7 separate regions of the Homo sapiens genome follow, and all the other regions are linked to region 1. The links come from fine-mapping of genetic effects on gene expression. A gene starts in region 1. Each other region holds a variant in brackets. All regions are shown on one strand. Distances are from middle to middle.

Region 1 (4,303 bases):
CTCAAAGTCACTATTAGTAGGATAGCCAACAAAGTGCTTCTTCAGGGTCCATGTCTTAGTACGAACCATCCTGAAGCTCCTAGAACACAGTAAATATGTAGTCAACTGCCATGAAGTGACTGCATTCTAACAGTTCTCTAGCCGTCAAACTGAGACCAGACAGCACAATTACAATATCCTCAAATCCCATCATTATCATATCATGCCAACCACATTCATTTAACATTTACTATGTTTCTGGTGCTGTGCTAAGCACTTCATATAGATTACCTCATTTTATCCTTATAACTTCCCTATAAGATAGACATTAGTATCATTGCCAGTGTACGGATGAGGAAACTGAGGTTTAAAGAAATCTTCAAGACAAGGAAAAAATATAAAACAACAAAGAAATTCTTCCCAGCCACTGCTAGGCTAGAGTTTCTCTACGGCACTGAACAGTTACCGGAAGTGCGAATATTCCATTCCGTTTCTCATCTCACATGGAGTGAATTCTAAGAAAAAGCATCAAACACAAAGAACCCAATAGATAGAAGTCCATGCACCTCTTTCAGATGGAAACAGCCACGCATTTCAAGGCAGTCTCAGAACTCCTGAAAACCACCGGAGGGCGCCGCTGCTCCGCCCCATTTTCAGGTGCGTTTTTTTTTTTTTTAAATACTTTTTTTTCTCTCTTTTCTTGTAGAGAGGAGCCTCACTGTGTTGCCTAGGCGATCCGCCCGCCTCGGTCTCCCAAAGTGCTGGGATTACAGGTGTGAACCACTTGCACTCAGCCATCGGGTGCGAATTTTCTTTGGCCCAGTAGGGATTTGAGTTTAAACTCCACACCAAACCGATTTTGAGCTGAAACGCTGCACCAAAGCAAGGGAAGATGATGAAGGCTGCCCCGAGCTGGGGGTTCAGGATGTTCTGCTTGGACTGAACTCTGCCGAATCACTTGGGACCTGCGCCTTCCCGCGGGTGCATCCGCTACAAACAATCCAGTTACGAAACCATTTGGAGCTGCCAGTGATCTCCCCAGCTCCCCTACCGGTGCCGCGGGAGGGGACACGGTGACCTGGAGGGAGCACTCCCGCATTGCGAGGGAGCCAGGGGGGCGGTCTGATCTGCAGCCCGGGGTTGTTCCTTCTTTTCTTTTTTTAAAATTAAGACTTTTTTTGTGACGGAGTCTCGCTCTGTCGCCCAGGCTGAAGTGCAATGGCGCGATCTCAGCTCACTGCAACCTCCGTCTCCCGGGTTCAAGCGGTTCTCCTGTCTCAGCCTCCTGAGTAGCTGGGATTACAGGCGCCCGCCACCACGCCCAGCTAATTTTTGTACTTTTAGTAGAGACGGGGTTTCCCCATGTTGGCCAGACTGGTCTAGAACTCCTGAGCTCAAATGATTCGCCCGCCTCGACCTTCCATAGTGCTGGGATTACAGGCGTGAGCCACCGCGCCAGGCCCTACGTATCATTTTTACGGTGAGACATTTGCAGTTTACTCTGTTATTTCGAAATACACATTATTGGCTCTAGTCACTCTGCTGTGCAACAGATCTCAGAACCTACTCCTCTCGTCTCTGAACTTCGTACCCTTTGGCCAACAAGCCCCCATTCCCCCCCGAACCCGCTCCCAGCCTCTGGCAACCATCATTCTAGTCGTTATTTCTATGAGTTCAACTTCTTTAGAGTTCACACATCTTTGTCCCTTTCCCCAAAAAAGCAACCGCTGGGCTTCCAAACTCGCTACAAGTCCAGAAGCCCTCCTGGAAAGGGTCTGGCCGCAGAGGGGCCAGGTCCCGGGAAAGTCTCGCCCGCCCGAGGAGGGGGCCTGGCGCGGCGCCCGGCCTTTGCCCGCTCGCCCTTTGCTCCCACCCTCGCCTCCCGCCGCCCGCCGCCCGCTTGCCCATTCCCGAATCCCCACCCCGATCTTTCTTCTTCTACCCTCCCCCAGTTGTGCAGTCCAGCAAGTTCCCTGGCCAGCCCCCTCCCGGGTGCAGGAAGCTACCGGGTGTCCCGGGTTGTAACCAAGCTTTCCTATTCCCTCCGGCGCGCGGCTCCAAGCTCTCCAAGGAACTGCGGGGGCGGGAGGCGTCGGGACGTCGGCTCCCAAGATCCTCCGAGTGCAAGACCCAGCGGTCATTTCGACGTAAGGGGAGGAGGTCTAAGAGCAAACCTCCTCCACTGGGGCGTCTAGAAACTTGGCAGGAAGAAAGCAAGGGGGTTAGAGGAGGGAGAAAAGGGAAGGAAAGAAAGCAGGAGGTCTACTTACAGGAGCCCGAAGGTTCCACTGCCTGGGGAAGGCGGCTGGGACTGCGCAGCCGGGCGCCCGGGGTCCGACTTATGACAGGTCCCAAGAGAGGGTGGGGCCACCCCAGGGCGGGGCTGCTTCTTTAGGGTGAGAGCCCGGCCCCGAAAGGGTCACAGGAGGAAAACCAGGGTCCGGGAAATCTGAGTGCGTTTGTGTGTGTGTGTGCGCGTATCTCTGTGTGCCTATGTGCATGTGCGCGCGCGTATGTGTGCATGTGTGCGTGTGTGTGCGTGCGCGCCCGCGCGCCCGTGTGTGTGCGTGTAGGGGGTTAGGGACTCCTGATAGGAAAATTCCTAACAGAGCTTTGTCCAGCTGACACTGGACCTCCGCCTGGGGTCCTAAGTTGGAGCCCGGCGGAAATATGCCCCGTGGGGGAACCAACCGTGGCATCTGCCAAGCAGGCCGGAAGGGTCCAAAGGCAGGGCCTGGGGCGGCCGCAGCCCTAATAAGCCCCCGGTGCTGGCTCCGATCCCTGGGCTCCCCGTCAGCCCTGCCGCTTGCCCGCAGTGCAAGCTTTCGCCCAGGGCTGCGGTGCAGACACCCTGCCTGTCTGTCCCCAGTCCGCCTGCTGAACACCTACTCGCCTTCCACCAGCCAATTCAAGGTCACCTCTGTGAACCCTTGCCAGACTCCCCCAGGCAGGAGTGAGCACTCTTGCCACTGAGGCACCCCACCCATCACACCCTAGCAAACATCAGGCCTTGACCTGGCTTCTGCAAGGAGAGGTGGTCTCAGGCAGGGGTTGAACGTGAAGCTAAGTCGTTGGTATTAGACGACTGCAGGTTCGAAGCCTGCACCTGCCACTTACTAGTGGTGTAGCTTTCAAAGACTTACTTACCTTCTCCTTGCCTCACTCAGTTCAGCCATCTGCAAGATGGGGATAAGAAGAATGCCTAACTTCCAGTCATTGTGAAGATTCAATGTCTTTAATTTATTTATTTAATTTTAATTATTTTGAGGTCTTGCTCTGTCACCCAGGCTGGAGTGCAATGGTGGGCATCATAGCTCATTGCAGCCTTGAACTCCTGGACTCAGGTGATCCTCCTTCAGCCTCCCTAGAAGCTGGGATTACAGGCCCACCACCACACCTGGCTCAATGTCTCTCCTTGTAAGGATACCCGCCATATTGGATTAGAGCCCCACTTGTCAGCCTCCGTTTAACTTAAACACGTCTTTGAAGGCCTTGTCTTCAAATACTGTCAAATGGATTAGGGCTCACTAATATGGCCTCATGTAACCTTAATTACCTCTTTAAAGGCCCTATCTACAAATACAGTTACATTCTGAGTACTGGGACTTGGGGATTTTAACACATGAAATTGGGGAAGACACAGTTCAGCCCATAACAGAGTGTGTGGACCAAGCGTGGTGGACGCATGCCACAGGATATACACAGCATCAGAAGCACTGGGTTCCATGTACATAAAGCAACTTGGATGGACCCTAAAAACACAATGCCGAGAGTTGAATTCTTCACACTAATCAGAGTTGGTGGCACTTTATCCCCACTGGTCTGCCAAATTCTTTCTTTCTCACTCTCTCCCTTCTCATTAATTTATGTAACTTAATATAAAACAAAACTCCATTCCCAGGCTGGGTGCTGTGGCTCATGCCTGTAATCCTAGCACTTTTGGAGTCTGAGACAAAAGGACCACTTGAGGCCAAGCATTCAAGACTTGCGTGGGCAACATAGCTTTAACCTGGGAGGTGGAGGCTGCAGCGAGCTGCGATCGTGGCACTGCACTCTAGACTGGGTGTCTAAGTGAGATCCCGTCTCAAAAGAAAACCAAAAAAACTCAATTTCCTGCTTTTCTCCTCCTACTATAGGTAACTACTGTGATGTATTTGATTTGCATACAGTTTTTTTTTCCATGTTCTTACATAATGTGCACTGTGGTCATATACATTTAATTTATAGAAACGGTATTGGGTTACATATCGCATTCTGCTTCTCTCTTTTTTTTTTCTTTTAAGATAACTTGTTACAGAATCACTGTTTCTTTTGGATATTAGAA
Region 2 (4,353 bases), 78 kb before region 1:
ATTTTTGTGGACATGATTTCATTTTTCATGAGTAAATACCTAGAAGTGGGATTGCCGGGTCATATAGTAAGTATATATTTAACTTTATAAGTACATTATTATTATCATTATTATTATTATTATTTTGAGACAGAGTCTTGCTCTGTCACCCAGGCTGGAGTGCAATGGGGTGATCTCGGCTCACTGCAACCTCCGCCTCCCGGGTTCAAGCGATTCTCCTGCCTCAGCCTCCCAAGTAGCTGGGATTACAGGTGCCTGCCACCACACCTGGCTAATTTTTTGTACTTTTAGTAGAGATGGGGTTTCGCCATGTTGGCCAGGCTGGTCTTGAACTCCTGACTTCAGGTGATCCACTTGCCTCAGCCTCCCAAAGTGCTAGGATTACAGGTGTGAGCCACAGCACCCGGCCATAAGTACGTTATTTATTAAGCTTTGATGCTTTGATTTCGCTTGTCCTTTAATCTCTCTACTTTCTTCTTTTTCATTCGTTCATTCTTTTTTTTCTTTTTTTGTTTTAGAGACAGGGTCTCACTCTGTCATCCAGGCTGGAGTGCAGTGGCACAATCAGAGCTCACTGCAGTCTCAACTTCCTGGGCTCAAGAGATCCTCCTTCCTCAGCCTCCTGAGTATATGGAACCACAGTCATGCACCACCATGCCCGGCTATTTTTAAAATTTTTTATAGAGATGGGTCTTGCTATGTTGCCCAGGCTGGTCTCAAACTCCTGGCTCAAGTGATCCACCCACCTCGGCCTCTCAAAGTGTTGAGATTACAGGCGTGAGCCACCACACCTGGCTCATTCTTTCTTTTTTTAAGAGACAGAGTCTCACTATGTTGCCCAGGCTGGTGTCGAACTCCTGGCCTCTGGCAATCCTCCTGCATCAGCCTCCTGAGAAGCTGGGACTATAGGCGCATGCCGCCATGCCCAGCTCTCTTTTCTTCTTTTATGTTAACTAACTCTTATCTTCATCTTCCTTACCTAAATTGGACTCCATCATAAATCATTTTAAACAAACTTTTGCTCATATCCTCAACTGGTTATCCCACTGTCCTCCTGTCAAACTTATGCTACAACCCCCATCCCCTGGATCAATTCAACTGTCCCTCTTCCCTGTACCTATTCTGGAGCTATGTTGTGTACCTTGAGAAAAATCATTTAATGTACATATTGATGTAACATAAAATGGGGGTTTCTAACCTCAAATGGGCCCTTAACACTGCAGGGAAATCCTTCTGTGTTTTTGTGATCAACTCATATTCTCCCAGCAGCCATCTACTCTTTTTTTTTTTTGAGATGGAGTCTCGGCTCTGTCACCCAGGCTGGAGTGCAATGGCGTGGTTTCAGCTCACTGTAACCTCCACCTCCCAGGTTCAAGTGATTCTCCTGCCTCAGCCTCCCAAGTAGCTGGGACTACAGGCGCGTACCACTATGCCCGGCTAATTTTTTTTTTGTATTTTTAGTAGAGACAGGGTTTCACTATGTTGGCCAGGCTGGTCTCGAACTCCTGACCTCGTGATCTGCCTGCCTTGGCCTCCCAAAGTGCTGGGATTACAGGTGTGAGCCAGCACGCCCGGCCAAACCTAATCTACTCTTATCAAGCTTCAGATCCCACCCGTATCTCCCTTCTGGGGAGGTCCCAATAGTGGATCTCAGCAGGATCCATTAGATACCAGTTCCAAATCCAACTGCATCTACCCCCTTCTTTGCCTCCTTCCCTGCTATTACAATGAACACTGCATGCTGGCTCTGGCAGTTTAAAGCTAATTTCTCCACTTGTGCTTCCCCCTAGTTTCTCAGTCTTCACTCTACAGCATATTCCCACACTCTCTGTCTTCATCCCCTTTCTCTCTAGTGGATCCTTACGGGAGCTTCGTAGCT[CACTT/C]GCTTGCTATTTCTTTTTCTTTCTTTCTTTCTTTCTGGAACATACCACCCTCTGTGGCTCTACAGAGCCAGGCAGGAGGAATTTTTTGTTATTTCTTTTCAGGAGAGGGTCAGCTCCCCTAGAGTGGCTCTGGGATCTTTGGAGTCCCAGTTAAACCAGGACTGGAGGCACCTGGAAACAAGGACTTGGTGTCCTTGAGGCAGCTCAAACCTTTAGAGCTCAGAGGCCTCCAAAGTGGATGCACAAGAGCCCTGAGGGTCTTAAGGAGATAACTCCAAAGCTGCTAGGTGGGGAAGCCAGGACTTCAATCAGGAATGCACCTCTTTCATCTGTAATATTTCTTTTGGACAGTTTGGCAATTAACAACTAGTTTTAAAACACCTGTTTTAGATCCTTGATCAGAGTCCCAGCCTGTCCTCCTCCCTCTAGAGATGGGGAAGATGTGCTCCTTTCTCCTAAAAGCCTTGGGCTCAGAGCCAGTCAGTTTCCAATCTACCAGTTGAGTGACCTTGGGCAAGCCCCTCCCTGCGCTGGGTCTCATTTTTGAAAAAATAGGATATGGGGAGGGGTGGGCAGGACCTTGGGTCTTCAGTTTCTTTAAAGTGGAGTGAGTCTAGAAAGAAGACAGGGAAGCCGGGCGCAGTGGCTTACGCCTGTAATCCCAGTACTTTGGGAGGCCGAGGCGGGTGGATCACGAGGTCAGAAGTTCAAGACCAGCCTGGCCAAGATGGTGAAACTCCATCTCTACTAAAAATACAAAAATTAGCCGGGCGCAGTGGCAGGCGCCTGTAATCCCAGCTACCTGGGAGGCTGTGGCAGGAGAACTGCTTGAACCCGGGAGGCGGAGGTTGCAGTGAGCCGAAATCGCACCACTGCACTCTAGCCTGGGTGACAGAGCTAGACTCCGTCTCAAAAAAAAAAAACAAAAGAAAAAAAGAAAGAAGACAGGAAAATTAGACAGACTCTCCCCTTCAGATACACAAACAATCATACATACTTCCTCCCCAACTCTGTGTACGGGAACAGAGGCTGGGCAAGGGTCTAAGAAAACAGGAAATGTTAATACAAATAACAGGTCAGGCCAGGAGCAGTGGCTCACCCCTGTAATCCCAGCACTTTGGGAGGCCAAGGTGGGCAGATTACCTGAGGTCAGGAGTTTGAGACCAGCCTGGCCAACATGGCAAAACCCCATCTCTACTAAAAACACAAAAATTAGCCAGGTGTGGTGGTGAGCCCCTGTAATCCCAGCTACTCAGGAGGCTAAGGCAGGAGAATTGCTTGAACCTGGGAGGTGGAGATTGCAGTGAGCTGAGCTGAGATCACACCACTGCACTGCACTCCAGCCTGGGCGACATTCCGTCTCCAAAAAAAAAAAAAAAAAACAAATACACACAAAAAAATCATAGGAGAACACTATGCAGCAATGAAAATAAACACTGTATAATCACATGCAACAATATTGATAAATCTCACAGACATAATGTTGAATGAAAGAAGTCATAATATATGAAGAATATGTACTGTAGGATTCTACTTTCTTTCTTTTTTTTTTTTTTATTTTTGAGATGAAGTCTCACTCTGTCGCCCAGGCTGGAGTGCAGTGGCGCAATCTCAGCTCACTGCAACCTCTGCCCCCCTGAGTTCAAGTGATTCTCCTGCCTCAGCCTCTTGAGTAGCTGGGATTACAGGCAGGCGCCACCATGACCGGCTAAGTTTTGTATTTTTAGTACAGATGGGGTTTCACCGCGTTAGCCAGGATGGTCTCAATCTCCTGACTTCGTGATCCGCCCACTTCGGCCTCCCAAAGTGCTGGGATTACAGGCGTGAGCCACCAGCCCGGCCCTTCCATCACCTTTTAAACCACCTTCATTTTATGTCACCATCATGTTACCTGGATTATGATAAGACAAAGTCTTTTTATCTCTGGTGTTACTTCTTTCTAATCTACTGTCCATACTGAAACCAGAACAGTTAAACGAACAAACAAACAGCTCACTTAAAGTTCTCCTAAGTATGTTTTCCTGTTTAGAGATCCCACCAGCTTGCTTACCAGTGGAACTGATTTGTAGTTTCCTGCTTCCTTCCTGATGCACAGTCCATCACTCCTTACCATGATGGTTACTTTTAATCAAAAGTTATAGTTTGACTACCAGTTCCAAAAAGATGCCATTCTTTCCTGGTAATTTATTCATAGGTAGCATGTCATTTACTTACAGAATATTTCAACTAGTACTGTGTTTCTCAAAATACAAGATCACCTGCAACAAGTTGATGGGTGGGGAGGGCCAGAAGGTTCCAAAATCTGTATTCAAATAAAGAACACCATGTGATTCTAAAGTACAGTAAAGCTTGAGTAAGCTTTACTAAGTAAAGTGCCTCTGACTTGCCTGGTTAAAATAATGAGCCAATAGACATTTCCTATTCCTTTGCCTTCTCCAGCTTCTTCCTGATGCGTCTAAAGCCAGCCAAG
Region 3 (4,353 bases), 280 kb before region 1:
TATGATTAGCATAAATCCAGGACCTAGATTTATGGTTAGCAAACATTTTCTCCCATTCTGTGAGTTTCCTTTTCACTTTCTTAATAGTATCCTTTGATGTTACAAGTCTTTTATTTTGATCAAGTCCAATTTATCTATTTTCTCTTTTGTTACTTGGGCTTTGGCTGTTATATCTAAGAAACCATTATTGTAGCCAAAGTCATAAATATTTACCCCTCTGTTTCTTCCAAGAGTTTTAGCTTTTACATTTGGGTCCTTGATCTATTTTTAGTTAATTATATATATAATATATATATTTACATATATAATATATAATTATATATGATAGTATATATTATTTTGTTATATGTTATATAATAATTATATATTTATTTATATAATATAATTTTATATTTATTATGTACATTATATATAATGTATATTATATATTTTAATTTATTGTTAATTGATATTTATTTTATTTTAAATATATTTTAATTTAAATATTAGATAATATTTATATATGTTATAATAAATATATCATATATAATTCACTATATATAGTGAATTATATCTATAATGTGCATTTTATATATAATGTGAATTTTACATATAATGTGAATTATATATATGTATATATAATATGAGGTAAGGGTGCAACTTCATTCTTTTGCACGTGGATATCCTGCATTTCCAACATTATTTGTTGAAGAGACTATTCTTTCCCCCATTGAATGTTCTGGGTGCCATTGTCAAAAACCAATAGACAACAGATGTATGGATTTACTTCTAGACTCTCAATTCTATTCCATTGTCCTATATGTCTATCTTTATGCTAGTACCACACTGTTTTGATTACTGTAGCTCTATAGTACATATTGAAATCGAGAAGTGTGAGTCTTCCAAATTTGCTCTTCTTTTCCAAGATTGTTTTGGCTATTTGGTGTCCTTTATAATTTCATATGAAAAAAATCCATTAGGATTTTGATATGGATTGCATTGAATCTGTAGGTCACTTTGGGGAGTATCACTTTGGGGGAGTATCTTAAGTCTTCCAGCGCTTGAACATGGAATATCTTTCCATTTAGTTAGGTCTTTAATTTCAAAAATTTTATAGTTTTTAGCACACAAGTCTTACAATTCCTAGGACAAATTTATTCCTAAGTATTTTATTCTTTTTGATACTATATAAATGAAATTGTTTTCTTTATTCTATTCAGAATGTTCACTACTAATTTACAGGAACATCACTGGTTCTTGTACATCAATCTTAGATCCTATAACTTTGCTGAATTCATTTATTACCTCTAATAGTTTGTTTTTCTTTTCTTTTTTTTTTTCTGGTCACTTGTTTAGAATTTTTTTACATAACATCATGTCATCTACCTAATGAGATAATTTTTCTTCTTCCTTTCCAGTTTGGAAACTACACAAACTACCAAATCTGACTCAAGAAGAAACAGAAAATCTATACCAACCTGTAAGTAACAAAGATATTGAACTAAAAATCAAAAACCTGCAGAAAAAGAAAATCCCAGGACCAAGTGGCTTCACTAGTGAATTCTACTAAACATTTAAGAAAATGTTTAACACCACCCAGGCGCGGCAGCTCACGCCTGTAATCTCTTTGGGAGGCCAAGGCAGGTGGATCACGAGGTCAGGAGATCGAGACCATCCTGGCTAACACGGTGAAACCCCGTCTCTACTAAAAATACAAAGAAAAAAAATTTAGCCGGGCGTGGCCAGCGCCTGTAGTCCCAGCTACTCGGAAGGCTGAGGCAGGAGAATGGCGTGAACCCGGGAGACTG[A/T]GCTTGCAGTGAGCCGAGATCGCGCCACTGCACTCCAGCCTGGGCCACAGAGTAAGACTCCGTCTCAAAAAAAAAAAAAAAAAAAAAAAGAGTAAAAACAAAAGTAACACCAACCCTCTAAAATTATTTCAAAAAACAGAAGAAGCAGCTCCGAGGAATTTGCAACTGCAGTGACCTATGATCACACCACTGCACTCTAGCCTGACCCATGGAGAAAGATACATATAGTGCAGTATCATTCTGGGTCTCTGGGAATTGGAGTAAGCTGTGAATCAGTGTTCAGAAATCCAAAAGTTCTGAATGTTCTTGTTTCTTGCTGCAGTTATTTTGAAATCAAGTTGTGGCAAAAAGAATAATGGCCCCTAAAGATGTCCATGTCTTAATCCATGGAATCCGTGAATATTTTAGTTATACAGCAAAGGAGAAGTAAGGTTGAAGATAGAATTAAGGTCGCTAATCAGCTGACCGTAAGACAGAAAGATGATCGAGCTTGGCCCAGTGCAATCACAAGAGGACTTGAAAGTGGACAAGAGGGGCATAAGAGGGAGTCAGAGAAAGAGAAGTGGTGACAGAAGCAGAGTCAGGGCGTTGCTATATGAGAAAGCTTAGAAGACGGAGGAAGGGGCCATAAGCCAAGAAATGTGGGTGGCCACCAGAAACTGGAAAAGGCAAGGAAACAATTGCTACCCAGTGCCTACTAAAAGGAATACATCTCTGCCCATACCTTGACTTTAGTCCATTGAGACTCATGTCAGATTTCTGACCTATATAAATGTAAGATTACAAATTTGTATTGTTTAAACCACTATGTTTGGGGTAATTTGTTATGGCAGCAATAGAAAACTAACACAAATGGTATGCAGACCCCTGAAAGTCTTCAAGTCCCTTTCTGTGAGGTCAAAACAATATTTATAATTATAAAAAAAAGTTTCTCTTACTTTTTTACCTTGATGATATTTTCAGTGGTTGCAAAAGCAATGGTGAATAAAACTGATGGCACTGTAGTAGAAATAAAAGCACTAGCACCTAACTATACTAGTAATTATTGTATTCTTCATCATAATGCACTCATAGAAAAAAAATCCAGTTTCACTTAAGCATACATGATGAAGCAGTAAAAAAAATAATAACATTATTAAATCTTGACCTTTGAGCACATGTGTTTTTAATAGTCACTGTGACAAAATGGGAAGGATGCCGCTCTGCTGCATCTGGAAGTTTCATAATCACCTTGAGGAAAAGCATTTGTTCAGTTGTTTTGTTTGAGTATCCATCACTTTTTTCATGGATCACCTTTTTTGTTTTTTGAGAAGGAGTTTCACTCTTGTTGCCTAGGCTGGAGTGCAATGGCGCAACCTCGGCTCACTGCAACCTCTTCCTCCCGGGTTCAAGTGATTCTCCTGCTTCAGTCTCCTGAGTAGCTGGGCCACCATGCCCAGCTAATTTTGTATTTTTAGTAGAGATGGGATTTTTCCATGTTGGTCAGGCTGGTCTCAAACTCCCAACGTCAGGTGATCCGCCTGCCTCGGCCTCCCAAAGTGCTGGGATTGCAGGCATGAGCCACCGCACCCAGCCATGGATTACCATTTTTTTCTTCAAAAAACAACTGGAAGATAAGTGTTAGTTTTTCAGACATATTTTTTCAATCTTTTCTCTCTGTTATTTAGTCTGGATGATTTCTGTTCATCTGTCTTCAAGTTCACAGACTCTTTCTTCTGTAATCTACATTCTATAATTGAGCATATTAAGTACACTTTTTATTTTAGTTGTATTTTTTAATCCCAAGATTTCCACTTGTTTCTTTTCTTAACTTCTGTTTCGTTGCTGAGGTTCTCTTACTTTTCATTCATTTTAAGAATGCTTGCCCTTACGACCTGGAGCATGGTTATAATAGCTGCTTTTTTTTTTTTTTTTTTTAATTATTATACTTTAAGTTTTAGGGTACATGTGCACATTGTGCAGGTTAGTTACATACGTATACATGTGCCATGCTGGTGTGCTGCACCCACTAACTCGTCATCTAGCATTAGGTATATCTCCCAATGCTATCCCTCCCCCCTCTCCCCACCCCACAACAGTCCCCAGAGTGTGATGTTCCCCTTCCTGTGTCCATGTGATCTCATTGTTCAATTCCCACCTATGAGTGAGAATATGCGGTGTTTGGTTTTTTGTCCTTGCGATAGTTTACTGAGAATGATGATTTCCAATTTCATCCATGTCCTTACAAAGGACATGAACTCATCATTTTTATGGCTGCATAGTATTCCATGGTGTATATGTGCCACATTTTCTTAATCCAGTCTATCATTGTTGGACATTTGGGTTGGTTCCAAGTCTTTGCTATTGTGAATAATGCCGCAATAAACATACGTGTGCATGTGTCTTTATAGCAGCATGATTTACAGTCCTTTGGGTATATGCCCAGTAATGGGATGGCTGGGTCAAATGGTATTTCTAGTTCTAGATCCCTGAGGAATCGCCACACTGACTTCCACAATGGTTGAACTAGTTTACAGTCCCACCAACAGTGTAAAAGTGTTCCTATTTCTCCACATCCTCTCCAGCA
Region 4 (4,000 bases), 20 kb before region 1:
AGCCTGGATGACAGAGCAAAAAACTGTCTCAAAAAAAAAAAAATCTTACAACCTCACAAATAACCTAGTTCAAAAATGGGCAAAGATTTTGAACAGATATTTCTCCAAAGAAGATATACAAATGGCAAATACATACGTTGAAAGATCCTTAATATTGTTAGCCATAGGGAAATGCAAGTCAAACTCAAATCAGAATGAAATATCACTTCAAACCTACTAGGATGGTTATAATAAAAAAGACAGACAATAGCACGTGTTGGTGAGTATGTAGAGAAGTTGGAACCCTCATACACTGCTTGTGGGAATGTAAAGTACTGTAGCCACTTTGCAAAACAGTTTGACAGCTCCTCAAAATGTTAAACATGAAATTATCATATGACCCAGCAATTCTACTCATAGGTATATACTTAAAAGAAATGAAAAATCCACACAAAAACCTCTGCATGAATGTTCATAGTAACATTATACTTCATAGCCAGAAAGTATAAGCTAATACCCATCAGGCTGGGTGTGGTGGCTCACGCCTGTAATCCTAGCACTTTGGGAGGCCGAGTTGGGAGGTTTGCTTGAGCCCAGGAGTTCCAGACCAGCCTGGGCAACATGGCGAAACCCCATCTCTACTAAAAATATAAAAATTAGTTGCGTGTGGTGGCACATCCCTATAGTCCCAGCTACTTGGGAGGCTGAGGTGGAAGGATTGCTTGAGCGAGGGAGGTCGAGGCTGCAGTGAGCCACGATCACACCACTGCACTCCAGCCTAGGTGACAGAGTGAGATCCTGTCTCAAAAAACAAAAAAAAGGAATAAAGCACTGATAAATTCTATGATATGGATGAAACTTGAAAACATTTTGCTAAGTGAAAGATGCCAGTCATAAGAGACCACTTTTAGTGGGGAGGAGGGTGGTAATGGAGAGTGACTGCTAATGAGTAGCGTTTTTTGGGGGGGGTGATGAAAATATTCTTAAACTGGTTGTACAATTTTGCCAATATAGTAAAAAACATTGACTTCTACACGTTAAATGAGTGAATTACATGGTACATGAATGATATCTCAATAAAGCTGTTTTTTAAAAAAGGCATATATACTTTCTTCATGTACCCCAAAATGGAAACTCTAGGAATATATTCCCTTGTATCAGCGGTCCTCAACCTTTTTGGCACCAGGGAGCAGTTTCATTGGAAGACAATTTTTCCATCGATTGTTGGGGGGATGGTTTCAAGGATGATTCAAGTACATTGTGTTTATTGTGCACTTTATTTCTATTATTATTGCAATGTAATATACAATGAAATAATTATACAACTCACCATAACCATAGAATCAGTGGGTGAGTTTTCCTGCAACTAGACGGTCCCATCTGGGGGTGATGGGAGACAGTGACAGATCATTAGGCATCAGGCATCATCAGGCACCTGAGTAGTGCGATCTCCATAAGGAACGCACAACCTAGATCCCTCACATGCATAGTTCACAACAGGGTTTACACTTCTATGGGAATCTAATGCTGCCACTGTTCTGAGAAGAGGCGGAGCTCAGGCAGTAATGGGAGCAATGGGGAAGGGCTGTAAATACAGATGAAGCTTTGCTTGCTCACCTGCCCCTCACCTCCTGCTGTGCATCCCAGTTCCTGATAGGCTATGGACCACTAACCATCCATGGCCCAGGGGTAGGAGACTCCTGCTTTATATAGTACTTCCATAATAAATTAGATATTAAGTCCAGTTTGTACTTACATTATCAAAATAACAATCATAACCATCAGGAGACGCTTTCTTCAAGGTTTCTTCCAAAGACTCTACCGTCTTGTAGTTAAAGACGACATCAAATCCAAGCTTTTGAAGGTAGGCAACCTTTTCATCAGACCCTACTGCTCCAACAACTTTGCAGCCCTAAGTAGAAAAAAAAAAAAAAAGGAAACCATGAATAAGTCACAAGCATGGACCAACACTACTTTCCTGGTCTCGTATGCCTAGGTTCCCTAGGAACACTCTCTTAGGTGCTGAGCCACATATAAAAGGAATACCATAATGGGCCAACAGATCCCATAGGTGAAATCAGTCCCCGGACCATCCTACAACTCAGCTTCAGCTTGCTTCTGACC[A/C]CCCAGCAGGTCCCTTCTGCATTTATTTGGTTCATAGTTCCACCAGCTGGTTTCACAACCGATCCATTTGACTTCCTTGGTTCTTTGTTTCTGGGCTTCTCTTCCTTGCAATGCAGTGTATGCCATCTCTTGGTACAGTCATTCTTCAGACTATTATTTTGTCTCAGCTCTGTGACTCCCACATCACAGACAGCCCTCCTAGTAACTGCCCCCTTATCCTTTTTTGATTTTTTAAATGTTTATATTTTTTTGAGACATGGTCTCACTCTGTTGCCCAGGCTGGAGTGCAGTAGCACGAACATGGCTCACTGCAACCTTGACCTCTTAAGCTCGTGATCCTCCCACCTCAGCCTCCTAAGTAGCTGGGACCACAGGTGCATACCACTACATCTGGCCTTATATTTTTTAAATTTTCACAGAGACAGGGTCTCACTATATTGCCCAGGCTGATCTCGAACTCCTAGGCTCAAGTGATCCTTCTGCCTTGGCCTCCTAAAGTGCCCAGGCTGATCTTGAACTCCTGGGCTCAAGTGATCCTCCTGCCTCAGCCTTCTAAAGTGCTCGGATTACAGGCATGAGCCACTGCACCAGGCCCCCTTTATCCTTTGATTTAGTCCAAAGCACCAGACTACACGCTTCCTAATCACAGAGGAGCTAGGAAGCATTCTGAAAAGCACTTTCAGGATGACACTACAGATTATAGTGGTTCATAGAAACTAGCTTTTCAGAAAGCTCCCTTATACTCTAAATGTATTATGAAGACCAGAATATGTGCCACTGTGCATTTTCAATCGAGGAAAAACCCCAGTTGGATTTACATGAATCTCTGTACAAATAGTGACGGCCACAGGCTTTTTCCATTCCTTCATGATTCCAGAAAAAACTATTGCAAGAGAGCCCTCCTTGGTCCTTTTTCCTTCTAAGACTATAGACTATCATAGGATGATCTCTTTCACTCTTATGACCTCCTTTATGCAGATTATTAATTAATCTATTAATTCTATCTATTAATGTTAGCCCATTTTTTTTCTCCTGAGTTCCAAATCAGTATTTCCAACAACCTATAGATGTCCTCACACTTGGATGTCCTGTAGGTCCCTCATAAATAGTGTGTTCAAAAGGGAATATACTTTTTTCCTTGCTTCTTACTTATTTCTTTTCTATCCACTATTATAAGAGAATGATACCACTCAGTTATCCAAACCTGAAACATGGCTCAAAGGAGAAGCTTTCCTTTGTCTTATGATCCATGTCCAATCATCTGGTTTTCTTCCTCTTTTTTAACCAAACAGCCTTAAAATCCGACTCTGGGCCAGGCGCGGTGGCTCACGCCTGTAATCCCAGCACTTTGGGGGGCTGAGGTGGGTGGATCACCGGAGGTCGGGAGTTCGAGACCAGCCTGACCAACACGGAGAAACCCCATCTCTACTAAAAATACAAAATTAGCCAGGCGTGGTGGCACATGCCTGTAATCCTAGCTACTCGGGAAGCTGAGGCAGGAGAATAGCTTGAACCTGGGAGGCAGAGGTTGCGGTGAGCTGAGATCGCACCATTGCACTCCAGCCTGGACAACAAGAGCGAAACTCCATCTCAAAAAAAAAAAAAAAAGCTGACTCTGACTTCCAATCTTTGTCGATGCATCAAAATTTTCATTTGAATTATTGTAAGAGCCTCCTAAGTGGACTTCTTGTTTCTAGCATAGCGTCCCTAGGAACTATTCTCCTACCAAGGCCTAAGTGATGTTTCTAAAAAGCAGAACCAATCATGTTACTTCTTTAAGGATTGAGTATAAATTCCTTAGCATGGCAGTCTCCAGTGGAATTTCTACAGGGAAGAGAAGATATTTTAAAAGATGTGTTCATACTGTTTCAAGTTTCTCAGTGAAATTCAAAAGGAT
Region 5 (4,353 bases), 170 kb before region 1:
ATGTTCTTAAGTAAAGCTGAGTTTTATTCTCTTTTTTTTTTTAAATGAGTACATAACACTGAAGAATAGAATAACTGTTAGTCATCTGGTGACATGGCTTTGATATGTGGTAGGAACCTAGCAAGTACACTCACCATTGCTTTTGTACCATGAGTGCAAATATTGACACAGTACAAAAAGAAAAGGCCTTCACAGACTGCCTAAAAGGTGTTTTGTGACCCTAAAAAGGTCCATGGACCACACTGTGAGAACCACTAATCTAATCCAACCCCTTCATTTTCTACATGAAGAACATGAGGCCAGGAAAAGTTATGTGATCAGCCAAACCTTTCCTCCCCAGCACATTCATGTGTACAGCCATTTGGGGCTAGAATTCATAGGTCCTGATTCCCAATTCATTGTTATTTCTGCTTTACCACACTCAATCTAATCTAACCAGGGCTAATATTGATTTTTAAAACAAGTATTTATGGTTTAAAAAGCAAAAAGGCAGACAGGTGCAGTGGTGTGCACCTGTAGTCACAGCTACTCAAGAGACTGAGGCAGGAGCACAGCTTAAGCCCAGAAGTTCAAGTCCAGCCTAGGCAACATAGCTAAACCCCAACTCAAACAAAAAAGAGCAAGAATGCAAGCATGCAAACAAATAATCCTTGTATATCTGGGTTTGGACCTGGAATACTTTTAAACACAGTGAACTAAAAAGAACTCACGTTAGTAAGGCAAAGGTCTTACTTTGAGGCTTTAGAAGGACCTATCTTTTGTTCTAGATTCTAGACCAGAAGTCTGCAAACTATAGCCCACAGTCCGAATCTGGCCCACCATTTATTCTGATAAGGTCTATGAGTTAAGCATCATTTTTACATTTTGTAATGGTTAAAAAATATCAAAGGAATATATTTTGTAATATATGAAAACTACACAAAATTCAAACATCAGTATCCACAATGTTTTACCGGCACACAACCATGCTCATTCGGTTATGTATTGCCTATAGTTGCTTTCATGTTACAAGAGTTCAGCAGCTGCAACCTGAGAGACCATAAGGCCTGCAAAGCCTACAAAATTTACAGAAAAAATTTGTCAATCCCTACTCTAGACAGTTTGTCATTGTTATTTAGGAATCTGAATTTACAACACAAGATCCAGTAAACTAAATTACCAGGTTTTAATTCATCTAAACTAGCATGACTTAAAACTAGCATTTTGTTATAGCACAGATTCAGCTTAAATGAAACTAGAAGAAAATGTATAAATACGCAGTTCATGTCAACAAACTACTTTTTACGCTGATGTGAGAATAAATCAAAACAACCTACCTCTTTTGTCTTCAGTGGTATATCTCCAAGGTACACCTTGTACATCTTATTAATGATGGCAGGATTATTCCAGTCAATTAAGCTATGGAAGGTTTCAACACAGGTTGTTAAAATTATTTTTCCCCCTCCTTCAGTGATTTCAAAAAAATTATAGCCCCAACATTTCTTAACAAAAGAAAATGTTAGAAACACACAAATGAAATGGGCAATTGACATTGTAGAAGAGAAGGAAAAGAAAGGGACTAATTTCTATCAAAGTATGTTTTTAAACCAAAACAAATACAAATCACTTATCCCACCCAGACTCAACAGATTATTGTATCCAATGGCACAATTTGGTACCACAAGAACACTGGACACTGTTCCTACATAGATGGGTTCTCAGGCCAATGGCATGGAGCAACTCCAACAGAGCAGAGCTTTACTACACTTGTTCAAAGAGGCCTGGGGCAGGGTAGGATTCGTCTGTTTAACCATTTGGCAGTTCAAAAGTGATAAGGAAAGTGACAAAAAAATTTTTACCCATGAAATTAAAGCCACATCTAGGAAGCTTGCAAGCCACCGTATTTCTCTAACGTCACTGTGATTCCCAGCATCCCCCTCCTTCCTTATCTACCAGTACACACTTGCAGTTTTAATTCTGCAGAGTAGTTATGCTATCAGTCACTAAGACTTAATTCTATTTGGGCCCCACAATAAGGTGAATTCAGATATAAGGTGATTGGTGACAGCTGGGCATGGTGGCTCACACCTGCAATCCCAGCACTTTGGGAGGCCGAGGC[G/A]GGTGGATCACCTGAGGATAGGAGTTCAAGGCCAGCCTGGCCAGCATGGCGAAACCCCATCTCTACCAAAAATACAAAAATTAGCCGGGCACGGTGGTGTGCACCTGTAATCACAGCTACTCAGGAGGCTGAGGCACGAGAATCACTTGAATCCGAGAGGGGGAGATTGCAGTGAGCCGAGATTGTGCCACTGCACTCCAGCCTGTGTGACAGAGCTAGACTCTGTCTCAGAAAAAAAAAAAAAAAAAAGATGATTGGTGATTCGTTCCCACCCTCTGCAGCAGATCCCACCCACTCATTTCATAAACCTAGCAATAATGTAATCCTTCCTTTCATTTGACTGGTTTACCATACTATATTCTCTCTGCCCTTTGACATTGGTTCTGCTTTCAAGCTATCCTGTGTTTGTGCAAACACAACAGATGAAGCTACTTTAACTGCTTTTTGGATTTATCTTCTTTCATAGTTTATAAATATGCTTCTTCTTAGAATAGCCACAATTCCGCTATCCTCAGAGGCATTCTACAATTCTGTTTTAGATATGATTCACCTACATCTTTCCTCAGCTGATTGCTACTAACTAATCCTCAAGCTCCGCCGTTGCTTTTCTTTCATAATACTTGTGGTTTAGAGATTTCAGACAAAACAAACACTTTAGTAAAACAAACTAAAAACTTAGTAGTAATTAACTTCATTCATATTTTGGCAAATATATAATATTCCATAAAGATACATACAGTAATTTACTTAACTATATCCCCATTATGGAAAACTGAATTTGTTTTCATATTTTAACAATGATAGAAAATGATATAATGAACAAATCTATAAAATTTTTCTAAATCTCTTTCTGCTTTTGAATAATTTCCTTAGGATAAATTCCCAGAATATTGAGATAAAAGGATAGAAATATCTTTATGATTCATTACTTATTGCAAACTGCTTTCCAAAACTTCATTTCAATTTATAATGCCAATCAACAGGGTATAAAAATAGCAGTTTTGGCCAGGCGTGGTGGCTCACGCCTGTAATCCCAGCACTTTGGGAGGCCAAGCTGCGTGGATCACCTGAGCTCAGGAGTTCGAGAGCAGCCTGGGCAACATGGTGAAATCCCATTTCTACCAAAAATACAAAAATTAGGCAGGCATGGTGGCCAGCACCTGTAGTCCCAGCTACTTGGGAGGCTGAGGCATGAGAATCGCTTGAACCTGGTAGGTGGAGGTTGCAGTGAGCTGAGATCGTGCCACTGCACTCCTGCCTGGGCAACAGAGAGAGACCCTGTCTCAAAAAATAAATATATAAATAAAAATAAAAATCGCAGTTTCAATAGAAACGTAAATGGGTTTAACCACTGCTACTGGTATCCCATTCATTTATTTTTCATTGACTTCATTCATTTATTTTTCATTGACTTTATTTCTTATACAGAATATTTTCTATAAGTCTATTTCCTATCTGTATCTCCTCGTGTGTGAATTAGAATCTATTCAGCAACTCTTTTCATGAATGTAATTTTCACTGTATTAACCATAATACATACATAGTCTTTATTAAAAGTAATCTCGAATGGTTTGAGACACAGAAAAAAATAAAAATTAGTTTCTTGGAACTGACACTTTTCTTAACATCAATTCTTTAAGTTCATCTACCTAGCCAAAAGTCTCATTGATTGTGATGACATTCCTAACCTATTGCAGCTATAAACAGCATCTCCACACAGATTTTCTTCTCTGTCTTACACAGAATTCAACTCTTTAGCAAACTTGATTACAAACTAGGTATATTTAATAATCTCCTCTAAGTTGAATGCCTCATTACAAAAAATCCTTAAACAAAAAATGTGTCAAGTAAGTTTTTAGAAATGTAGTCCTTTCAATCTTGAAAGTTTACAGGGAAGTAGTTACCTCTGTTTGCTTTTCAATTCCAGGTCTGCTGCCGTTGCCACACTGTGGCGTGTATCACTAGAGGCAATCACCAAGTGGAGAACAGCTTCAAGTTCAGGCACCTGTTCAGCTTCTATGAATTTCACGATTCCCAATTTGCACTGTAGATAAATGAAGGGAAGGAGAAAGAACAGTCAGGGGAGCAAAGGACACCCACTGAAAGTACTGCTTAACATATCAGTGTGGTCACAAGCCAAAGATGAGCAGTAACAACAGTAGCAGCTCCTACTTAGGCTTACAATGTGCCGGGGACTGTACTAAAGCACATATATTCATAATTTCACTTAATCCTCACAATAATAAATCAATCAT
Region 6 (4,353 bases), 560 kb before region 1:
AGGAGGGGGCGCAGAGGGAGGGCCAGAGGAGCAGCGCCGACGCCAGCCTCCTCTCTTCCTCCGCCTTCCTTCTTTTCTGCTTGTTCCACGTAGCACAAGTCAGCAACACCCGAACCCCCAGAGTCCGCCCTCCCCGCTCCCAAGCTGGACCCCTTACCTGGTGTGGCGCCCCCAGCGCCCCTGACCTCTGCGCCCCCTCCTCCATTCATTGGCTCGACAGCCCACGGTGGTGGCAGGGCCGGGGCTGGGGGGTGGCCTTAGCCTCCCATTCATTATCTCAGCAGCCTCCCCCGCCCCGCCCCCGAGTCGACACACCCGCAGCGGGAGACCCGTGGCCGCCAGCTCGGGTCCCACCCCCGCCCCTCCTGCGCTTACCCCAGCGCCGGACAGCTGGCAGGACTCCGGTGGACGCCCCGGCACGGGGCATTTTCACGTTGTCGCTCTCCTCTTCCCACTCGAAAAGCTCTGGAAAACATCGCGGGGCCCGCAAAACCCCGGAAATGTGGCCTCTCTTTCGTGGCTCACTTTCTAAACTTTCCAGAAGGCGCAAAGTTTCTCCCAGCGCCGCCCTGCACTGGAGGCTGCGAAGAACGCAGAAGCGGCTTTGCTGCTAGGAAGGTGCATACGTTTCTAGTTCTGATTTTTCACTTCACTGGATCTGTAAACGAAAGCAAGTGTGTCTGCTCCCCTAGTTCTCCATATCCACGATTATAAATTTCTCTTCCGCTTTCCCAGTGTAGCTTTGCAAGTGTAAACTATCAATTTTAGTGAGAGTAATTAAGGGCGGGGACTGCACACCTGGAGGTGTGGGTGGGAGCGGCGCGGGACTAAGGCCTAGGGAACATTCTCAGGAGAGTGGCAGCCACAGGGATTCGCCCAGGTCTTATAACACACCCACTCGATGGGGTCTCCCTAGCCACGCCACCTCACAACACCCATCTCCCACTTCTGGCTTCCCAGGATTTCCGGAGTGATCACAATTATCGGCCTCTCGCTCCACAGCTAAGGCCACCGCATATCAAAAATAGCAGCGTGTGAGTAAAAGTTTCATGAGCCCTCGCCTTGAAATGGCACAGAGGACACAGCACACCAGCAGTAAGGCATGGGGACTCGGCAGGACTGATCTGATTGAGAGAAACGCAGGACAGCGAGGCGGGGCTATGTTGGTGGTGGCCACCAGGTAACCGTGGGCTTTGCAGAAGAGAAAGGTCACTGCAAACCGTAGCTGGACGGAAACTTTTCAAGCCTCAAGTGAGTTATGCTGTGACGGGACCATGACCATCTCCCACCGGTGACTGCTTAGAACCTTGACCAAGCTCGTGTGGTTTTCACAGGATGCTCAGGGCTGAGTCCTGGCTGTAAATAATTTACTATCTAAAGCTGTTTCCTTTTAAAAACAATGGTTCTAATCTTTTTTTTAAAAAAAATCATTCAAATCTTTTTTAAAAATCCACTTTAAATAACTTTGCTTTCTATACCTTTCCTACGAATATATGATTTATTTTATAACCTACTATGTGAAAAAATTGAAATTTTAGTACATGCACAGTGCTAATATGTTCATGCACAATGCTACTTATGTTTGTGTACGGCATGCAGAAATGTGTATAGATATGTATACCCATGAATACAAACCACTCCCTTATCTCACAAATAATCATAGGGGTTGATACCAAACTATAAGAAATATTATATTGGGATGAATAGGCAAATGTTCACTATAAAATCTCAGTATCATAAAAAGTATATATTGGTAAGAAAAAAATATACTCGAAAGAGGTTTCCATATATTTTTAACCATAGCTCTACTCAAGTCAAAAAATCACTTATTAGCTAATTTTCCCGTCTCTTTCTTCCTATACACTGTACTTACTATCAGATTTCTTAACACCAATACTTCTATATCTAATATAAA[G/T]ACATTTTAAAATTAATTATTTCCATGTTTAGCCTTTCCCCATAAATCAAAGGTAAAGTAAAAGGAGTTTCTTACCTACCACTCAACTTGAATATTTTTAATATGTTGATTTTGTCTCTTACCTTCTTAAGGAATACAGTTGCTTCTGTTTTGACTATCTTAACTACTCTGTGGCCCCTTCTAACATCAAATTGGGAGGCCTGTCCGTACAAGACATGTGTATTCAACAGTAAGTTATTTGCTATAAAACACTTCATTTCCTCTTTATTTGGTCTGCTGTGGCCTGAAATGAAATATAGAACAAACTGAAAGGTCTGCCTGGACAGACCTGTCTTCCTGACAAGCGTGGACCTGTCTAAATGAGACAGCTTCTGCAGCCAGCTTTAGATCGATAACTCTAAAATTAAATGTAGGTATGTACATCCAGTAGAAAAGGACAGAGAAAATGAAATACAATACAGAATTCAGTTCAGCATCTAGATTAATCCATAAAACCTAGCTCATTATGTTCCAAATGAGCTACTTTTCTCATCTGTAAAATGGAATAATGGTACCAGTGCAGTCTTTTATATGGTTCCAAGTTGTCTTTTATCAAAGTAAAATAATATATTTGGGTGGGCTTCTGAAGACACTAACATTGATGATGAGGTTTCAACAGGAACAAAGAATACCTTGATAAATTTTCTTGAATGTTTTCTCCTGTCTGTAGTCCTCTTGTCATTCAGACATTCCCTTTCTTGGAGAGTCATCCTGATGCTTTCTGTCCTAACCTTTCTCTCCTCCCCTCTGCCAAGCAGTATTTCTTTAGATTTGTTTCTTCAAATGACTTCAGCAGAGGTAAAGACCCAAAGACAGCTGGCGCTGTCAAACATGACAAAAAATATTCTTAGCCACAGTGGCTCATGCTTGTAATCCCAGCATTTTGGGAGGCTGAGGCGAGAGGAGCGCTTGAGCCCAGGAGTTCGAAGCTGCAGTGAGCTGCCATTGTGCCACTGCACTCCAGCCTGGGCAACAGCCAGGCCCTGTCTCTTAAAAAGTTTTAAAATTTTTAAATATATATGTATGTTCAGCAAAATGAAGCCAGGCATGGTGGCTCACACCTGTAATCCCAGCACCTTGGGAGGCCAAGGTGGGCAGATCGCTTGAGGCCAAGAGTTTGAGACCAGCCTGGCCAACATGTCTGTCTCTACTAAAACCCTGTCTCTACTAAAAATATAAAAATTAGCCGGCATGGTGGTGCATGCCTGTAGTCCCAGCTGTTGGGAGGCTGAGGCATAAGAATCTCTTGAACTTGGGAGAGAGAGGTTGCAGTGAGCCAAGATTGCACCACTGCACTCCAGCCTGGGCAACAGAACAAGACTGTGTCTCAGAAAAAGTTCAGCAAAATGAAACATTGTGATGGATATTTCAAGTTCAGGTTTTACATTAATATCTGGAAGGACACCATAGACTTTGTCAGACTATTGATATAAGCTAGTGATCCAAGGACTATAATTTGAGAAGCATTTCGGGTGGAAAAATTGGCTGTCACTGCCTTTGGCACTATTATTTGTTCAAAAGGTTCCCCAGTCATGGCACACTCATGGAAGAGTTCTCTCTTCCTCCCTCTGTTCGCTTCCCTCTGGCAAAAAGCTTTTGAAATTTTCTGTTCGAGAGTAATCAAAACTATCAGCAAAACGATCTGTTGGAAACTTTCCCTCCAGTCTATTAAGGTAGAGACTGATTCAAAGACAGTATTTTGGTGAAACAATACCCTGAGAGAACTCAGCCTTTTCCGGAAAGTTTTGCAGATGATGCCTCCAGGCATAGTTTTCTTCCTCCTTGAAATGGGGTATTTGTGCCTCTCCAGTGTTTTTCCCCTTGGCTAGGGGGGAAAAAAAAGCATTCTCCTTAGGAAACCTTTCTATTTTAAAAGTCCAGCGGCAAAGGTGGGTGGGGCAGCCCAATTTAGTAAAAAGTAATAATAATAACACTCTTCAGAGTGCAGGTGGCATAAGGAGATTCCAAGAATGGAGAGAATTTGGGTTTGCATGCAGCAGCCTCCTGCAAGGACTAGGCTGCAATGAAAGCCCCAAACAGAGTAACTCTGTGTTCACCTTTTTCTTATCACATACATCTGCATGAATACTCTGGGTAACATCAGAAGTAGGTCAAGGCTAGCAGATCCTTTCTCTGTAGTCTCCCTCATCCAAAATAAAAAAGGCTTAGATCTAAAACAGAGTGAAGAAAGACAAGGAAAAGGAAAAAAATATATGTGTGTTATATATACAACTATAAAGCTAAAAATGGATCTGGATACAAAGAAATCATAGAAAGGGTCAACAAAACAAAAACCTAGTTCTATAGAACAATAGCAAGATAGATAAATTTCTGGTAAAATTGACAATGAAAAAAGAGAAAAGAAGGCTATGAATATGGAGATTATAATTACAGTTTCA
Region 7 (4,353 bases), 450 kb before region 1:
CTTAGGATAAGTGTTTTGCTTAATATATTCTTAAAAATCAATCTTTTTATGTATTTTAGTGTCTACTCTTTCAAATTTACGGAGGCTTTGTTATAGATAATTGATGTTACCTACATATTTTTGTTTGTTTTCTTTTTTATTTTTATAGAAACAGACGTTGCAGGATGTTTATTTGTTTTCAAGTTAGGATATTGGGCTAAAAGGTAGTGAGGGGACAATGGATCTTTCCCTTGGCTGGGTCCTGGAAGAACAGAGGGGCCTGGACTCCCTTGAAGGGTGCAAGGTCAAAGACCCACTATTAGGAGATGTGAACCAGTTCCTGCAACTTGCAAACAGAGAGTAAAAAGATAGATTCTCTGGAGGATCCTAGGAATGAGGAATCGGTTTTGGCTTGTGAACTCTGGAAATGTTCATATTTAGTATCCAGGATTTTCTTTTATATGGCAAATCTCCTTTTGTTCTCTTGTATTGTTAGTAGAGTTCGTTTAATTGTTATAGCCTGATCTTAGCTGAGCTCTGAGTATTAATTGATAGGCCCATGTGCATATTTGGAATGAAATTGTATAGGGAGAGTAATCATGGCCTAAGGAAGCCAGTGAAGAAATAATACATTGTTATCCAAAGATCAGAGATGCAGGCCAGAGTGGGGCTGCTGGCCGAAGCACACAGTAAAAACCAGGACTGACCTGGTGACATGGGTATATTCTCCAGGGAGTCTCAGAGACCTTGGGACTGTGGTCAGACATAATGAGGGCATGGATCCTTTCATTTAGAGTTAAAGGGAAGTGCTACTTCTGACAACTGTAGAGGCCAGGAACCTTTGGATTACAAACCAATAAATTCTTGTCACAGGCACTCAAGGAGACAGAATCTACTTTTCCAGATGCTTTTGTGTCTTCCTGCTGCACCGCCTACGATTACTGTTTTAAAGCTCTATTTCTAAATGCATGATATTAATAACTTCTTTTTTGAAAATGCTAAATATAGATGAAGCTACAACAAATGTGGCAACTTTCTACATAGTAATATATACAGAGAGCCACAAAATATTTGTGTAACTCTTCTAATTCTACTTAATGGGAACATTTTAAATTAATAAAAAATATAGAGGAAAGCATGAAAAAAGTAAAAGTAAATATGGGTTAACAAAAATGCCTTAAAACTTTGGAATAATAAACAAAAATATATTAATAGGAATAACACTGATTAATAGTGATAAGGAAAAACATGTTATTTAAACCATTAACACAGTATAAAAGTTTTGGAATCACATAAAAACTTGAAGAGATGAGCAAAACAGGCAGCAACATGAGTGCAAAATAGCCAATAATGTTCTAAGCAATTAAAAGTATTTAATAATTTACAATATTAAAAAGCATGAGGACAATAGTATGTTCTCTGCAAAACACACTCCCATGGCTCAGGGTTCCTGATAGAATGGAGAGGAGCCCACCACTGCACCAGTGGGACATTCTACTATCTTCACTATCTATTTATTACTTAGCCTTCATTAATTGTTCTTTACTATGCACTCTTCACTATTATTCTTATGTAGGTTGAGGGTAGGGCTTACATCTTCCTTAGCAAACAGTAATAGCTCCTAGCAGCAGTTGCCTTTCATACTTGTACACAAGTGCCAACACATGGAAATGTTATGTGAAAAAAAAGTGTCCATCACAGTGCAATTTATACCAGCAGAAAATGCAGATAACCTAAAATGCCCAGGAATAGGAAACAGTTAAACATCCCATCACATGTTAGCTGAGCGACATATTTCGGAACTCTTAGAAAAATCATGATTTTAAAGATGCAACCTGGGAAAATTCTTGATTGAATAGATGTAAAAACAATGTAAAATATACAGAGGTAATAAGCTTATGTCAAATTTATAAAACATATGGAGAGCTAACATAAAATGCTAATGACAGTTGTTA[C/T]GGTGACAGGTTATGAATTTTTCTACTTTTTTTGGTAGGGTGAATTTACTTTCATAAGAAAAATTATGTGTGAAAATATAGATGAAGTCTCTTATTTGCACCCACGGTTTTTTGGGCCATAAACTAAAATCCTCAAGGTAATTAGGGATATGTGGCAGCCAGGTAGCCACAGAGTCCCATTTTCAGCCCTCCCAACAGGTGTTTCTAAAGAGCTCAGAATCCCGAGACCTACATATCATGTTGATTCAGCCATGTGAATGTTTTTAAGGAGGAATACCAAAAAGAGAATAGTCTTGTGGGATACATGAATGATAAACCTCCAGAAGAAAAAGGGCAGTGCCCTAATACTGAGCAACTGCATACATTTTTATTTCCAGGTAAAGATCACCCTTTGAAAAAACTAAGGAGCCTGCCTGTCCATACAGGGCAAGCTTAAAATAGAATTATGTGAAGTGGTCTGGTCATCCTGTGACCTGTGGCAGAAAATAGTAGCAAAGAAAGCGAGAGAAAATATCAGAATCTGAAATTTCACCAATTCATGATAACCACAGACCCTCCTGGACCTTCCCTGGGAAAAAAGGAACAGAGAAAGGGGAGAATATTCTGTCTTCCTCAGATTCCAGCCCATCCCTTTCCAATGTCCAGAGTCTACCATCTGTGAATTTATAACTCCACCCTTTCTTCCTCCCCATTTCCAGTCTTCTCAGTTAAGCCTTCTGTAGCAAATGGATGAGTTAAGACCTGGTGTGTTGTCTCCCTGTTAGTAATTAAAGTGACATGAACAAAATTGCCACGTTTTGATTTCACTTCATGCCCAGAGACATCTGGGGATCTTTATGGGCCAGTAATTTGATACTAAAGGTAGGCTAATCATTTGTGTCCCTTCAAATAGAGATTATTAGGTCTGTGTGTGACCTTTACTTAAAAACGAGGCTAAGTGCTGCTGTACCGGGAGGACCAGGGTCACAATTTTCAGCCTCTTCTGCACTGTCCCTGGACCAGAGACCCATCAACTATGACTCAAGCACGCTTCCTAGAAGACAATTCCATCCATCCAGAGTGCTTATCTAAGCAAACACCCTCCAGCCACCTACAGAACTCTCCCTGACAGTAGTGCTAATTAAGATTTTGTCCATCAGTTACAATCCCAATAATGCTTCAGCACCCCCATGACTAGAGGCCCAGGCAGCTGTCGTGTCGGCTCACTTGTTTCCCCATTACAGGAAGTAAGCTCCCTTGGAAAAAAATCACAGTGGTTAACCTTGGGGGAGGAAGAAACATTGTCTAGGAAAGAGCAAAAGAAACTTTCTGGGCAAAAGTCATGTTCTATATCTTATTTATTATTTTTATTTTATTTTATTTTAATTAATTTATTTATTTATCTCTTTAGAAGCAGAGTCTTGCTCTGTTGCCCAGGCTGGAGTGCAGTGGTGCAATCTCGGCTCACTGCAACCTCCGCCTCCCGGGTTCAAGCGATTCTCCTGCCTCAGCCTCCCAGGTAGCTGGAACTACAGGCACGGGCCACCACACTCGGCTAATTTTTTGTATTTTTAGTAGAGGCGGGGTTTCACCATGTTAGCCAGGATAGTCTTGATCTCCTGACCCTGTGACCCGCCCACCTTAGCCTCCCAAAGTGCTGGGATTACAGGCATGAGCCATTGCACTCAGCCATGTTCTATATCTTAATAGGGGTTTGGGCTACACCAATGGATGCATTTGTTAAAACTGAGGAAATTAACATGAAGATTCGTGCATTTCTTTGTATGTACATTTTACATCAAAAGAAAAAAATTATAAACGAATATTTAACTCTTGATGATACTCATGATACAAAATAGTAACGTTAGTATATTAAGGTCTGCAATTTTCTTTGAATTGCATAAACAAAAAGAGGATGGCTAGTAAGACTGTTAGGTGGATAGAAAGACTGTTAGATGGATAGATATGTGACAACACAAGCATAGTAAAATTTTAATAATACAATGTAGATAATGGGCATAGGGGGTGGTCATCATAGTATTTGTTCAACTTAGTCATATGTTTGAAAATTTTGGATAATAAAATGCTGGAGGGAAAAAGAAATCAACTCACATCCTCAGGCCGAACTCTAAATAAATTAGGCAGTAACTATATTACATTGCTATATTAGCCTCCAGTGACCTCCTCCACTCCTGACCGTTTTAAATATTTGGCGTTACAGCTTCATTCTCTCAAAAACAGAACAGGCTATGTTGTTTCGGTATACTGCTAACACTGTGAACATCACAAGGTTCACCTTCAATTACTTTACCTAATCTGGAGTATGAGAGTATTCGTGAAGATTCTTTGGTTGTGATCAGAAACTGACTCTAACTTAAGCAAATGGGGAATTTATGGGAAAGATGTAGGGGAGCTCACAGGACTCACAGGATTGAAGGAA

Direction of the effects. Positions count from the first base shown, and alleles are read on the strand shown. Sizes are in standard deviations (SD) of each study's normalised expression. Not every link is listed here.
With allele A in place of T in region 3, the expression in lymphoblastoid cells of the gene that starts at base 2,294 in region 1 is higher (large effect, 0.81 SD a copy in TwinsUK).

Evidence for each region. PIP is the estimated chance that this variant, and not a neighbour inherited with it, causes the effect.
Region 2: its variant is fine-mapped to the expression of PTGR1 in whole blood (TOPMed, PIP above 0.99).
Region 3: its variant is fine-mapped to the expression of PTGR1 in lymphoblastoid cells (TwinsUK, PIP 0.95).
Region 4: its variant is fine-mapped to the expression of PTGR1 in aorta (GTEx, PIP above 0.99).
Region 5: its variant is fine-mapped to the expression of PTGR1 in fibroblasts (GTEx, PIP above 0.99). The same link has a PIP of 0.9 or more in breast and subcutaneous fat.
Region 6: its variant is fine-mapped to the expression of PTGR1 in spinal cord (GTEx, PIP 0.99).
Region 7: its variant is fine-mapped to the expression of PTGR1 in hippocampus (GTEx, PIP above 0.99).

Annotation. Positions count from the first base shown.
Region 1 is chr9:111,597,354-111,601,656 of GRCh38, forward strand. It overlaps PTGR1 (prostaglandin reductase 1), which reads right to left and starts at 2,294. Exons shown (of 10, transcript NM_001146108.2): 1 at 2,250-2,294; 2 at 1-79. The coding sequence starts at 69. RefSeq lists an enhancer at 2,145-2,717.
Region 2 is chr9:111,519,183-111,523,535 of GRCh38, forward strand. No RefSeq gene overlaps it. Among named protein-coding and RNA genes, the nearest start is that of ZNF483, 3.8 kb to the right of the region's middle. The variant CACTT/C (reference allele first, on the strand shown) is at 1,880.
Region 3 is chr9:111,314,036-111,318,388 of GRCh38, forward strand. No RefSeq gene overlaps it. Among named protein-coding and RNA genes, the nearest start is that of OR2K2, 14 kb to the right of the region's middle. The variant A/T (reference allele first, on the strand shown) is at 1,788.
Region 4 is chr9:111,577,061-111,581,060 of GRCh38, forward strand. PTGR1 (prostaglandin reductase 1) reads right to left here. Exons shown (of 10, transcript NM_001146108.2): 7 at 1,736-1,891. It also overlaps a transcript of ZNF483 not described here. Among named protein-coding and RNA genes, the nearest start is that of PTGR1, 21 kb to the right of the region's middle. The variant A/C (reference allele first, on the strand shown) is at 2,104.
Region 5 is chr9:111,429,231-111,433,583 of GRCh38, forward strand. ECPAS (Ecm29 proteasome adaptor and scaffold) reads right to left here. Exons shown (of 50, transcript NM_001364929.1): 8 at 4,003-4,142; 9 at 1,317-1,398. Among named protein-coding and RNA genes, the nearest start is that of ECPAS, 53 kb to the right of the region's middle. The variant G/A (reference allele first, on the strand shown) is at 2,099.
Region 6 is chr9:111,038,495-111,042,847 of GRCh38, forward strand. It overlaps LOC124902248 (a long non-coding RNA gene), which reads left to right. Exons shown (of 2, transcript XR_007061732.1): 2 at 961-4,353. It also overlaps a transcript of LPAR1 not described here. Among named protein-coding and RNA genes, the nearest start is that of LPAR1, 2.2 kb to the left of the region's middle. The variant G/T (reference allele first, on the strand shown) is at 1,916.
Region 7 is chr9:111,144,098-111,148,450 of GRCh38, forward strand. No RefSeq gene overlaps it. Among named protein-coding and RNA genes, the nearest start is that of LPAR1, 110 kb to the left of the region's middle. The variant C/T (reference allele first, on the strand shown) is at 1,935.